Homo sapiens: one gene and its partners. The protein of the gene in region 1 interacts with the protein of each later gene in a pairwise test. Each region holds a gene or a part of one and is shown in the gene's direction. Other genes may lie near its edges.

Evidence for each region.
Region 2: the proteins of LRRC8E (region 1) and LNX2 interact in a two-hybrid assay, tested with the Homo sapiens proteins (3 studies listed by BioGRID and IntAct).
Region 3: the proteins of LRRC8E (region 1) and TRIM2 interact in binary tests that used the Homo sapiens proteins (3 or more experiments, as listed by UniProt).

The regions. Positions count from the first base shown.
Region 1 is NC_000019.10:7,886,451-7,890,202, forward strand, and holds the start of LRRC8E (volume-regulated anion channel subunit LRRC8E), read left to right. Parts: upstream 1-2,059; 5' UTR 2,060-2,150; intron 2,151-3,752. UniProt on the Homo sapiens protein: Non-essential component of the volume-regulated anion channel (VRAC, also named VSOAC channel), an anion channel required to maintain a constant cell volume in response to extracellular or intracellular osmotic changes.
Region 2 is NC_000013.11:27,550,901-27,554,652, reverse strand, and holds part of LNX2 (ligand of Numb protein X 2), read left to right. Parts: intron 1-1,213; coding exon 1,214-1,445; intron 1,446-3,752.
Region 3 is NC_000004.12:153,333,302-153,337,053, forward strand, and holds part of TRIM2 (tripartite motif-containing protein 2), read left to right. Parts: intron 1-1,512; coding exon 1,513-1,665; 3' UTR 1,666-3,752. UniProt on the Homo sapiens protein: UBE2D1-dependent E3 ubiquitin-protein ligase that mediates the ubiquitination of NEFL and of phosphorylated BCL2L11. Plays a neuroprotective function. May play a role in neuronal rapid ischemic tolerance.

The DNA.
Region 1 (3,752 bases):
CCACCACACCCAGCTAATGTTTTGTATTTTTAGTAGAGATGGGGTTTCACCATGTTGGCCAGGCTGGACTCGAACTCCTGACCTCAGGTGAATCACCCGAGTCGGCCTCCCAAAGTGCTGAGATTCTAGGCATGAGCCACCGCGCCCGGCCAAGTCAAGGCTTCTTTTACCCTGTCAGGGAGAACTCTCCGTCTCCCATCCTAAGTCCAGGTAGGAACATTTCCATGGATGGTTTGGTTTTGTTTTGTTTTGTTTTGAGATGGAATCCTGTTCTGTCGCCCAGGCTGGAGTGGGGTGGTGCAATCTCAGTTCACTGTAACCTCCACCTCCCAGGCTCAAGCGATTCTCTTGTCTCAGCCTCCCAAGTAGCACAAGCCACCACACCCAGCTAATTTTTGTATTTTTAGTAGAGACAGGGTTTCACCATGTTGGCCAGGCTGGTCTCAAACGCCTGACCTCAGGTGATCCACCCTCCTCAGCCTCCGAAAGTGCTAGATTACAGGTGTAAGCCACTGTGACCAGCCCAAGCCTACAGCACCCGGTATTCCTAGGTGGTCTCCCATCCAAGTACTAACCAGGTCCGACACTGCTTAGCTTGCGAGGTGAGACGAGGATCAGATGCTTTTAGGGTGGTATGGCCATAGATACATCCAAGGTTTTTCTTTTCTTTTCTTTTTTTATCTTTTTTTTTTTTTTTTTTTTTGAGATGGAGTCTCACTCTTCGCCCAGGCTGGAGTGCAGTGGCGCAATCTCGGCTCACTGCAAGCTCTGCCTCCTGGGTTCACGCCATTCTCCTGCCTCAGCCTCCTGAGTAGCTGGGACTACAGGCGCCCGCCACCACGCCCTGCTAATTTTTTTGTATTTTTGTAGAGACTGTGTTTCACTGTGTTAGCCACGATGGTCTCGATCTCCTGACCTCGTGATCCACCCGCCTCAGCCTCCCAAAGAGCTGGGATTACAGGCGTGAGCCACTGCACCCGGCCTCCAAGGTTTTTCAGACGGAGAACAGATCAAGGTCCACCTCCACAGATTTGCTCATCTAAGACCCAGCTCAGGCCTCCCAAGTGGGGCGGCCAGGGTGGGGGTGGGGAGGCAGAGAAGCTGGGCCCCCCAGGACTTCGGAGCTGCTTGTGCCCCACTCCCCACCTGGAGGGCAGACCACAGTGTTGGGCAGGGACAGACAGGAGGGCATCCCCACTCTACTCAACTTCCGTTGGTTCAGCCCAGTTCCCGCCCATGGCCAGAGCTTGAAGGGAGAAGCCGTCCCCTCCCCGTCCTCTCCTCCCGCAACTCCACTCCCAGCACCTGAAAACTGCAGTCACCTGTGCCTTGGCTGGGCTTTAAGGCCAGGTGACTGGGCCTTGCGGGGTTAGAAGGAGCCCTTCCGCACTTCCTCTTTTTCTTTTTTTTCTTTTGGAGACAGGGTCCTTCTTGGTGGCCCAGGCTGGAGTGCAGTGGCATGATCGTAGCTCGCTGCAGCCTCTCAACTTCCCAGATTCAGGTGATCCTTCCACCTCGGCCTCCAGAGTAGCTGGGACTACAGGCACACACCACCACACCTGGCTAATTTTTAAAATTTTGTTTTTGTAGGTTTTAAAATTTTTTGTAGAGATGTGGTCCCACTATATTGCTCAGGCTGGTTTCAAACTCCTAGGCCCAAGGTATCCTCCTGCCTCGGCCTCCCAAAGTGTTGGATTACAGGCGTGAGTCACAGAGCCCGGCCTCCACATTTTCTCGACAGGGTCCGTAAGACCTGGTTCCCAGAAAGGTGGCCGTAGAATGGCTTTGGGAGTTCAGCGTCCCCAGCTCCCTCAGTTTCCCCAGCTGCCAGGGTCCAGCCAGACTGCAAAGTTGCAAAGTTCTAAGACCCCTGCATCTCCCGCCAGCCCCGAGCCCACCAGGGCAAAGCAGCCTAAGACGGCTGTCTTCCCCCAACCCTGCTGATCGCGCGGCGCCTGGAGTAGGGTCGACCTGGGCGCGCCTGCGGCGAGGCGGGGCCGAGTCGTCCGGGGGCGGGGCGGGGCGGCTCCGGGTCTCCTGTCCCCGCCTGCCCTGACTCACCCTCGCGGCCCGCCCGGGAACTCTGCGGGAGTCGCGGCAGCTCCGCTCCCAGAGACCCAGGAGTTGGGCCCAGCGTCCCTCCCGGAACGGTGAGTAGGTGGCTCTTTGCCTCTGGACACCCCACGAGGTGGCAGGGTGGGGGTCGGGCTGGGAGTCCCCGGGTCTGGACAAGGGGCAGAGCCGCTCCAGGTGCGCCGGCCCTGTGGCCGGGGCAGGCCGTCCCGACACACCAGGAGCTGGGGTGGGGGTGCCGGCCGGTGCAAAGGGAAACCTGGCCCACGAGGTGCCCGTCCTGGGAGCCAGGCAGACGCGGCCAAGTCTCAGAGTGAAGATAAACAGGCTGAAGATAAACTTGACTTTGGGGGTCTCAACCACTTTCCCCTCCCCTTGGCATCTGGGAAGACATTGACAACTCATCCCCGGGAGACTCTCAGAGCTCCAGAACCTACCACTTGGGGTGGGTTCAACCAAGCCTGACCTCTGGTGCTCTTGAACTTACACATGTCCCAGATCTTCAAGTCTGCTGGCAGAGGCGGCTTGGAAAACCACTCGGCTGGGAATCCGCAGGCCTGGGGCCTGACCCAGGACGGGCTACAAAGATGCCACCCTCCCCCACCCTAGACCCTCAGTTTCTCCCTTGCATAAATGGTTGAGGCTCAGCCGGACACCGTGCCTTACGTCTATAATCCCAGCACTTTGGGAGGCCGAGGTGGGCAGGTCACCTGAGGTCAGGTGTTTGAGACCAGCCTGGCTAACACGGTGAAACCCCATCTCTACTAAAAATACAAAAATTAGTGGCGTGTCCCTGTAGTCCCAGCTACTGGGGAGGCTGAGGCTTGAGTACTGCTCGGACCCAAGAGGTGGAGGTTGCAGTGAGTTGAGATTGGGCCACTGCACTCCAGCCTGGGCAACAGAGCGACACTCCATCTCAAAAAAAAAAAAAGATTGAGGCCAGGCACAGTGGCTCACACCTGTAATCCCAGCACTTTGGGAGGCTGAGGTGGGAGGATTGCTTGGACTCAGAAGTTCAAGACCAGCCTGGGCAACATAGCGAGACTCCATCTCTACAAAAAATCTAAAAGTTGGCTGGGCATGGTAGCACGCACCTGTGGTCCCAGCTACTGGGGAGGCTGAGGCAGGAGGATCACTTGAGCCCAGGAGTTCGAGACTACTATGAGCTATGATCGTGCCACTGAACTCCAGCCTGGGTGACAGAGCAAGACTCTATCTCTCTCTCTCTCTCTTTTTTTTTTTTTCAAGATAGAGTCTTGCTCTGTTGCCAGGCCGGAGCGCAGTGGCACGATCTTGGCTCACGGCAACCTCCACCTCCCAGGTTCAAGCGATTCTCCTGCCTCAGCCTCCTGAGTAGCTGGGACTACAAGCATGTGGCACCATACCCAGCTAATCTTTGTATTTTTAGAGATGGGGTTTCATCATGTTGGCCAGGATGGTCTTGATCTCTTGACCTCGTGATCCACCTGCCTCAACCTCTCAAAGTGCTGGGATTACAGGCGTGATCCACTGTGTCCGTCAGGACTCTATGTCTAAAAAAAAAAAAAGGTTGGGCCTTGTTTTCTACAAAACCCCTCTTAGGGCTGAAAACTGCTGGATGTTTCTTGCTTCTTCCCTGCCTCTTAGCATGGGCTGTGGGTGTGGAGGGTCTCACTCTCCCACCCTTCCCCCAGCAGGAA
Region 2 (3,752 bases), on another chromosome or scaffold:
CACTCAAATGTCCATCAGCTGAGGAATGGATCAATGGAATGTGGTCTACCCATACAGCAAAATATGATTTGGCCATGAAAAGGACTGAAGTACTGGCACAAATTACAAGGATGAACCCTGAAAATATTATGCAAGTAAAAGAAGCTAGATATAAAAGACCATGTATGATTCCATTTACATGAAATGTTCAGAAGAGGCAAATCTGTAGAGACAGAAAGTAGATTAGTAGTTGCTTAGGGTTGGGGAAGGGAAATGATGGGTATAGAGGGAGTGATTAAAATGTTCTCAAAATTACTGTAGTGATGATTGCACAACTGTGAATATATTAAAACCATAAAATTATGTTCTTTAAATGGGTGAATTGAATAGTATGTGAATTATTTCTCAAGCTGCTATTAAGTAAAGGTTATTTGTCCAGTTGTAGTATTGGGGTAATTTTATTTCCTTTTTGTTCTTTTATTGTGTTTTCTAAATTTTCTACAATGAGAATGATTTGCTTTAATAATCTGAAAAACTGATGATAAATTGGGAGAGATAAATTTCTGTAGACTTTGTAGCACAAATGTCTGCTTCCTACAAAACTAATCCTTTCCTAACCTTTGATATAATCCTCATTGCCATTTTTTATTATATTACTTAGCAGAGCAACAGTTCTTTTCTTCCTGAAACAGGGAAGACATTCAAACCGCAAGTTTCATTTCTTCATGTGGGCCCAGGGATAGCTTCTTTGTACATATTCTGATGTTTGCCCTGAATAAACTATACAGGGCTGTCCTTATGTATAGAACTGTGTAAATATAAAGCAGAATACATTAAAGATTTATTTCTAAGGGCAAAGGATCAAGTGATTTTTGATTGGACAGAATTGTAGAAATCTCTGAAACTCTTAAGAAGAGAAATGAACCTGCCCAGGGCCTGTACACAGCTAAACTCAGACTGATGATTCGAACTTCCAATCATGTCAAGGTGCCTCAGGCCACACTTTTTTCTATGTATTATGACATTATTTTAAAATTATGGAATGTTTTCTGTGTATTGGGTTTCTTCTCAATATTATAAAAATTACAAAGAAATAATAAATGCCATTTATTATTATACCTTATCTCATCAGAGTTGGGGGAACTAACTTTTGTTGCTTAGTTTATAAACAACAAGATTTGCAGGTGAAAACTCAGTGGCTCAGCTCATTTTTCTTGTTTCTTCATCTGAACAGGTGATGTGTTGCTAAATATCAACGGCATTGATTTGACCAATTTAAGTCACAGTGAGGCAGTTGCAATGCTGAAAGCCAGTGCCGCGTCCCCTGCTGTTGCCCTTAAAGCACTTGAGGTCCAGATTGTTGAGGAGGCGACTCAGAACGCGGAGGAGCAGCCGAGTACTTTCAGCGAAAATGAGTATGATGCCAGTTGGTCCCCATCATGGGTCATGTGGCTTGGGCTTCCCAGGTACTGAGCGCTTTCTTGTTGCTTTATGGAAATCATAATCATGCTTGCAGCCCTTATCAGTGTGTAGCATGATAAATTTACTCGTTGGGATAAAAAAAAAAGCTTTAATTCAGTAAAATAGCAACATCAAATCAAATTACAAAAGAAAAGGATAATTTTTCTTAGGATATTACACTTTAAAAGGTACACAAAGAAAGCAGTTGTGTCCATTCCTGTCAAGGCTCCTCAGTGGGCTAGCCATGAGATTGGATAACCCAGCCTCTTGCTTAGAAAAGTTGTCGTTTACCAGCACTCATTCCGCTATGTGCTGAGACTTCATGCATTTTTCATCAGAAAACCCAGGCCAATCTTGGGGCTTCCCCCCATCCCAGAAGCCTTTCTTAACACCTTTTTAAATTTATTTTAACTCTCGCTAAAAAGGGTGGCATTTAAAACTCAATTTTTATTGGATACAAGAGTCTATTAAGCCAAACCATTAGTGTTCAAGAATGGCTGCTTCACTTTTATTTTTTATAAATGTGACCAGCCAAGATATGCTGTGGTTGGTCAGTGTCGGGGTCACAGAAGCACATGGAACCTCCAGTGGCATCCCAGGGTACATTCCTTTCCGCGGTTGTTGTTTGACATTTGAGATAGGAAGAATGTGTTCCTATCATCATTTGTTGTCTAATCCGTTTAGATTCTTACCGTACCTAAGAATCCTAAAACTAAGCTATGAAGCATTTTGACTTTTGACCAAGTATGAAAATTATTGATTCTTTAAAATAAAACAATAAGAATTTGCTATTTTCTGAGCCACCTGACTCGTGGGATACATTTATAACAACAACTAGCATTTATATAGTGCTTCAAGGCGCTTTGCGCATAGTGGGTGAGAAGTGGTCTACTCGTGCAGTGGCTGGGCAGCACGTTGCAGACCTCAGAGCTTGTCTGCACCTCTAATGATGGGGCAGGCAGAGAGCAGCAGCGTCCTGGAGAAACTTGGTCCCTAGTGCTTCCTTTAATTTTCCTTATCTGATATACCAGTCTAGTTTGGAGGTTGGCACATTGACCTCTTTTTTTCAGAGCATTTTCTGGTGTGCCAGGCATAATAGCAAAGATTTTAGATGAGAAATACACAGTATAGTAAAATCTGTTTTTGAGCCCACCTGTGTTGAAAGAATACCTGTCGATAAAAGGCTACTATTCAATGTGTGTATGGAGGTCTCTGTTGAATGCAAAGCTATATTCAACAGCCATGTGTCCTCCTCAGTGGGTGCAGGTGGCCCCTATATGCAGGTTTCACACGGCATAGTGTAGCAGCTCTGCTCTGCTTTTCGTGAAAAGGGAGATTCTTCCACTGCGATTTGCTGGGGTATACAAGAAAGCTGTTTGTTTCAGAAGATGCAGCATTAGGAAAATAACCAACACTGTCCCTTTAAATCCAGGCCAGTGCATGGGACCTTGTTCCATCCCAGAAGCCTTTCTTATCAGTGAGCTAGGAAACTAGATAAGATGAGAAGTTCTGGCATGGTAAACATTGCTTTATAGAATTGGCTTTATTAAGAAATAATAAAACAGGATTTTTAAAATTAATTATTTATATTATGTATATTTATTATTTTATTATGGATTTAAAACAGGAAACCTTGCCTTCCGTGCATTTAGATCCAGTTTCACCTAAAGATGAAAGATATTTATTTATTATGAAGAGTTTTTTTTTCCTTATCATTTAGGTGTGCTTTTTTTGTTTGTTTTGTTTTTAAGATTTTACTCACTGCTTGTTCCCAAATCCATAGAGCTATGGAAACATAAGTACATTTTTTTTTTCTCCCTCTCTGGACACATCCTGCAATCTGGCAGTAGCATTCTAACTGTAGTTTCTCAGTGTCTATGATACATTTATATATGCATGTGTGTGTATAGATGTGTATATATTTTCTTTTTTTTTAAAGATGGGGTCTTGCTCTGTCACCCAAGTTGGCATGATCATAGCTCACTGCAGCCTCAAGCTCCTGGGCACAAGCCATCCTCCTGTCTCAGCCTCCCAGTAACTGGGACTACAGACACATGACGCTGTACCCAGCTTGTCTATGATAGAAAAAAAAAGAAAAAGATTTTTTGTTAGTGTTTTTCAGATTGATTTCTCTATTTTGGCAATTAGAGTCTCCCTTAAAATGAAAACATCCTAAGTAAAGGAGAAAATAACAAATAACTCCTCATGTAGACTAAAAGCCTATAGGACCTTTAGAAAAGAGAGATAATTATCTGCCTTCTTTTCGGAAGCTGCGTTCCTAATCTTTTTCTTCTTTCATTTGCATGCTGGGC
Region 3 (3,752 bases), on another chromosome or scaffold:
GTTGGCAAGGATTAGAGATGTGAGGAAAGGGGAGTAAGTAGCAAGAGGGAGATCTTTATGTTGATGGGATAATTCTGTACGTTGGTTGCAGTGGTAAATCTACACACATGATAAAATGACATAAAACTGTACACACACAACCCAAAGTCAATGTATTGGGTTTTGTGTGGTACCATAATTATAGAAGATGTGACCATTGGAGGAAACTGAGTGAAGAGTACACAGGACCTTTCTCTACTATCTTTGCCACTTCCTATGAATCTATAATTATTTCAAAATAAAAATTTAACAGAAGTAACAAAGCAGAAACCGATAGACCAAAAGAAAGTGATTTCACATCCAAACATATAATCAGCCCCCCGTACCCCCAAATCTCACATTTGTGAATTCAACCAAATACAGATCAAAAATTTCAGGAAAAATAATTTGTTAAATACAATGATTAAAAATAATACGAATTGTAAAAATACATAATATTATTTACATTATATAGCATGCTCTAGGTATTAGAAGTAATCTAGAGATGATTTAAAATATATGGGGGGATGTGCACAGGTTAGGTGCAAATACTAGGCTATTTTATATAAAGGACTTGAGAATCTGAAGATTTTGGTATCAGTCTCCTGGGATACCAGGGGATGGCTTTACCTGTTGAACCATTGACTTCTTACAACCCACTCTTTTCTAAAAAGGAAAAAATAATTTCTACTGTCTCATTGCTATTATGACTCAGGAACATTCTTCCATCATCTAGTTGCTGATTTTTCCCCTTATAAGTGTGGGGGAGGAAAAGGATGTGAGGCTGGAAGTGGAATAAGTGAAGATTTAACATGAACAATAAGCTTCATTCATTTTTAAGCACCATCTAGGGCCCTTCCCACCCAATATTTGTTGTGACCACTATAGGAATACAAGTGAAAGCTAGCAGCCAATGGCATATTCTTCTCCACCACCTGGAAATAGATGGGGAGAGGAGAGAAAGCAAGGTAAGTGGAGAGTAGGATTATAGATATGATAGTGACATAAACAAAGACATATCCATAGATGGATAGATGATTACTTAAGTGCTTTTTTGTTTTGCTTTTTTTTTTTTCTGCTTTTTTTTTTTAAGAGACGGGGTCTCGCTATTTTGCTCAGGCTGTTCTTAAACTCCTGGCCTCAAGGGATCCTCCCACCTTCACCTACCAAAGTACTGGCATTACAGATATAAACCACTGCACCTGGCTTATGCTAATGTTTTAAATATAAAAGCATATATACTGGGCATGGTGGCTCATGGCTATTATCTTAGCACTTTGGGAGGCTGAATCAGGAGAATCGCTTGAGCCTACGAATTAAAGGTTACAGTAAGCTGTCTTCACACCACGGCACACCAGCCTGGGTGTCAGAGTGAGACCCTGTCAAAAAGAAAGAAAGAAACAGAAAAACATTAGCATCAAGAGTTTTCTAACCCATGTTCAGCATATTACTATAACTTCTCCTATAACATTCTGACTTCCTATTTGTTTACAGGTTTTTGATGGGAGTGGATCATTTTTGTCCTACATTAACACATCTGCTGACCCACTCTATGGCCCCCAAGGCCTGGCCCTAACTTCAGATGGTCATGTTGTGGTTGCAGACTCTGGAAATCACTGTTTCAAAGTCTATCGATACTTACAGTAATGGTGGGCAGGTGGATACCCGCTTCCATGGTCTTGCACTATAAACTGGAATGGATTTCTCAATGCGGGACCAGATTATGACTAGAGTTTTTATGCCAGAAGGAATCATTGGTGAACTTTCCAAGGTTATTTCTGAATGTAACAATTTCCTTAAAAATGACTTATCCAATTTCTGTATTTCACCTTTAGGGTTAAAAAAAACTCTTCTACTGAATCTATAAAAACTGCAGTTTTACATCTGTGAACTATGGCTTAAGGGACAGGATTTATGTAGCTAAACTAATTTTGCAAATCAAACAGACACTTAAAAAACTAGCATATGTAAAGGTATTCGTTAATCCTGTGAATGGTAGCTTTTGCACAGAACTTCCAAAAGCAAAACAAAAACAAAATCTATTGTAGTTATATACTTCATTTAACCTAGGTCACAAGACCCAGGGAATCTTCTAACCTCACTTTTACAGTAGGTATTACTCTTGTGACATTTTTTTGGTTATCAACAACTAAATATAAATTACTTTGGAAAAAGTAAGGCTGTCTTGCAAAATGATCCCAGCTCTGATTAGCAGCCCTCTGGAGTTCAGAACTTAAGTATCAGTGCAAATTTCTCAACCTTTCTGGGTTAGACAAAGATCCTTTTTTGTGTGTTCTTTTCACCACCCCTTTGGCTCACCTTGTATCAGCAAACAAAGTACTTCTTCAGGGAAACCTGAAATTTCTAATGCCTTGAAAAGCATATTACAAAAGTAATGCTACCTTTTGGGAAACAAACTGCCCCGTTAACTCCAGATCATTGCACTGGAATGTAATCAAGAAAGTTAGTCATGTTTTATGTACCATGTTTTCACACGTGTCTCTTCTCTTCGACTTCCTGAAAGCGAAAGCTTTACCTCCTGCAAATGTCAGCACATGTAGTAGGACACCAGTATCCTAGGACAGAGAGCCATAAGTAGCCCTTTGGAGGACTGATGGTGTCAACCAAAGGCATGTGATTGATTAATGATTCCCCCTTAGAAAGCAAGTGTTACCAAAGTTGTGTTATCTTGAAAGCATTACAGGTAAGGGCATGTTATGGTTATTTATCATTGTTTAATGAATAGTAGAGGTGTCAAGGGACTATGTATACATGATTAGGGTAAGATAGAATGTATTATATATATATATATATACACACACACATATATATAGCTGAATCTTTGGTGTATTGAAATAGGCAGCACTCTGAAAGACAGAAGCTTCGTCCAGCCACTCTTCAGCACATTCCTTTACTAAGCAGTTTAAAGCCGTCCTAGTGGAGCAAGCCCTAAAGCAGATTTAATTTTTGCCATTTTCCAAGAATGACGGTGGTGGCTTTTAGTCAGAAAATGGCCTTCTGTGCTTTCAAAAAAAAAAACAAAAAAAAAACCACACACACACATAAAAAACCCAACAGGTCAAAATAAAAGTTGAACTTGAGTTACATTTAATTTAAATATAAATGCATTTTGAGAAATGTTAAGAACAATTTAGTCAATCGTTCATCTGTCATTGGTACTGTAAAATAAGCTGTGGTCTATTTCCACTGTTTAATTTTCTACTCAGTTCTACCAAATAGGATGTCATGTTTGACATTTTTGATAGTGACTTTGGGGTCTTCTTCACTGAAAGCACCTTAGAACTGTACTATAAGAAAACATTTCCCCTATGTATAATTATATGAATGTGATGTTTATTGCTTATTAATTTATAATTCAGTCATTCTCTATATAGGACTTCTTAAAATTTAGAAGGGAAATCTAGCTACTTCAAATTGTCTGTTAAATTTATTATGCCCAAATCAACCTCTGAAAAAAGGTTTTTCCAGGAAGATTTACATTTAGGTTTAATATTTTTTTAGTTAGGTAGAGTTTTAAAAAATACTTGAGCCTGTCCGTGATAAAGCTATAAAATTCAATAACTTTTTAGAATGTTAAATGAAGACACTGTTTCCTAACATCAGTGAGATACATCTTTGAATTTAAACATTCATATTTACTGAGTACCTACTAGGTACCAAGTACTCTTTTAGGCACTGGAAATACAGTGATGGACAAAACAGGTAAAAAATCG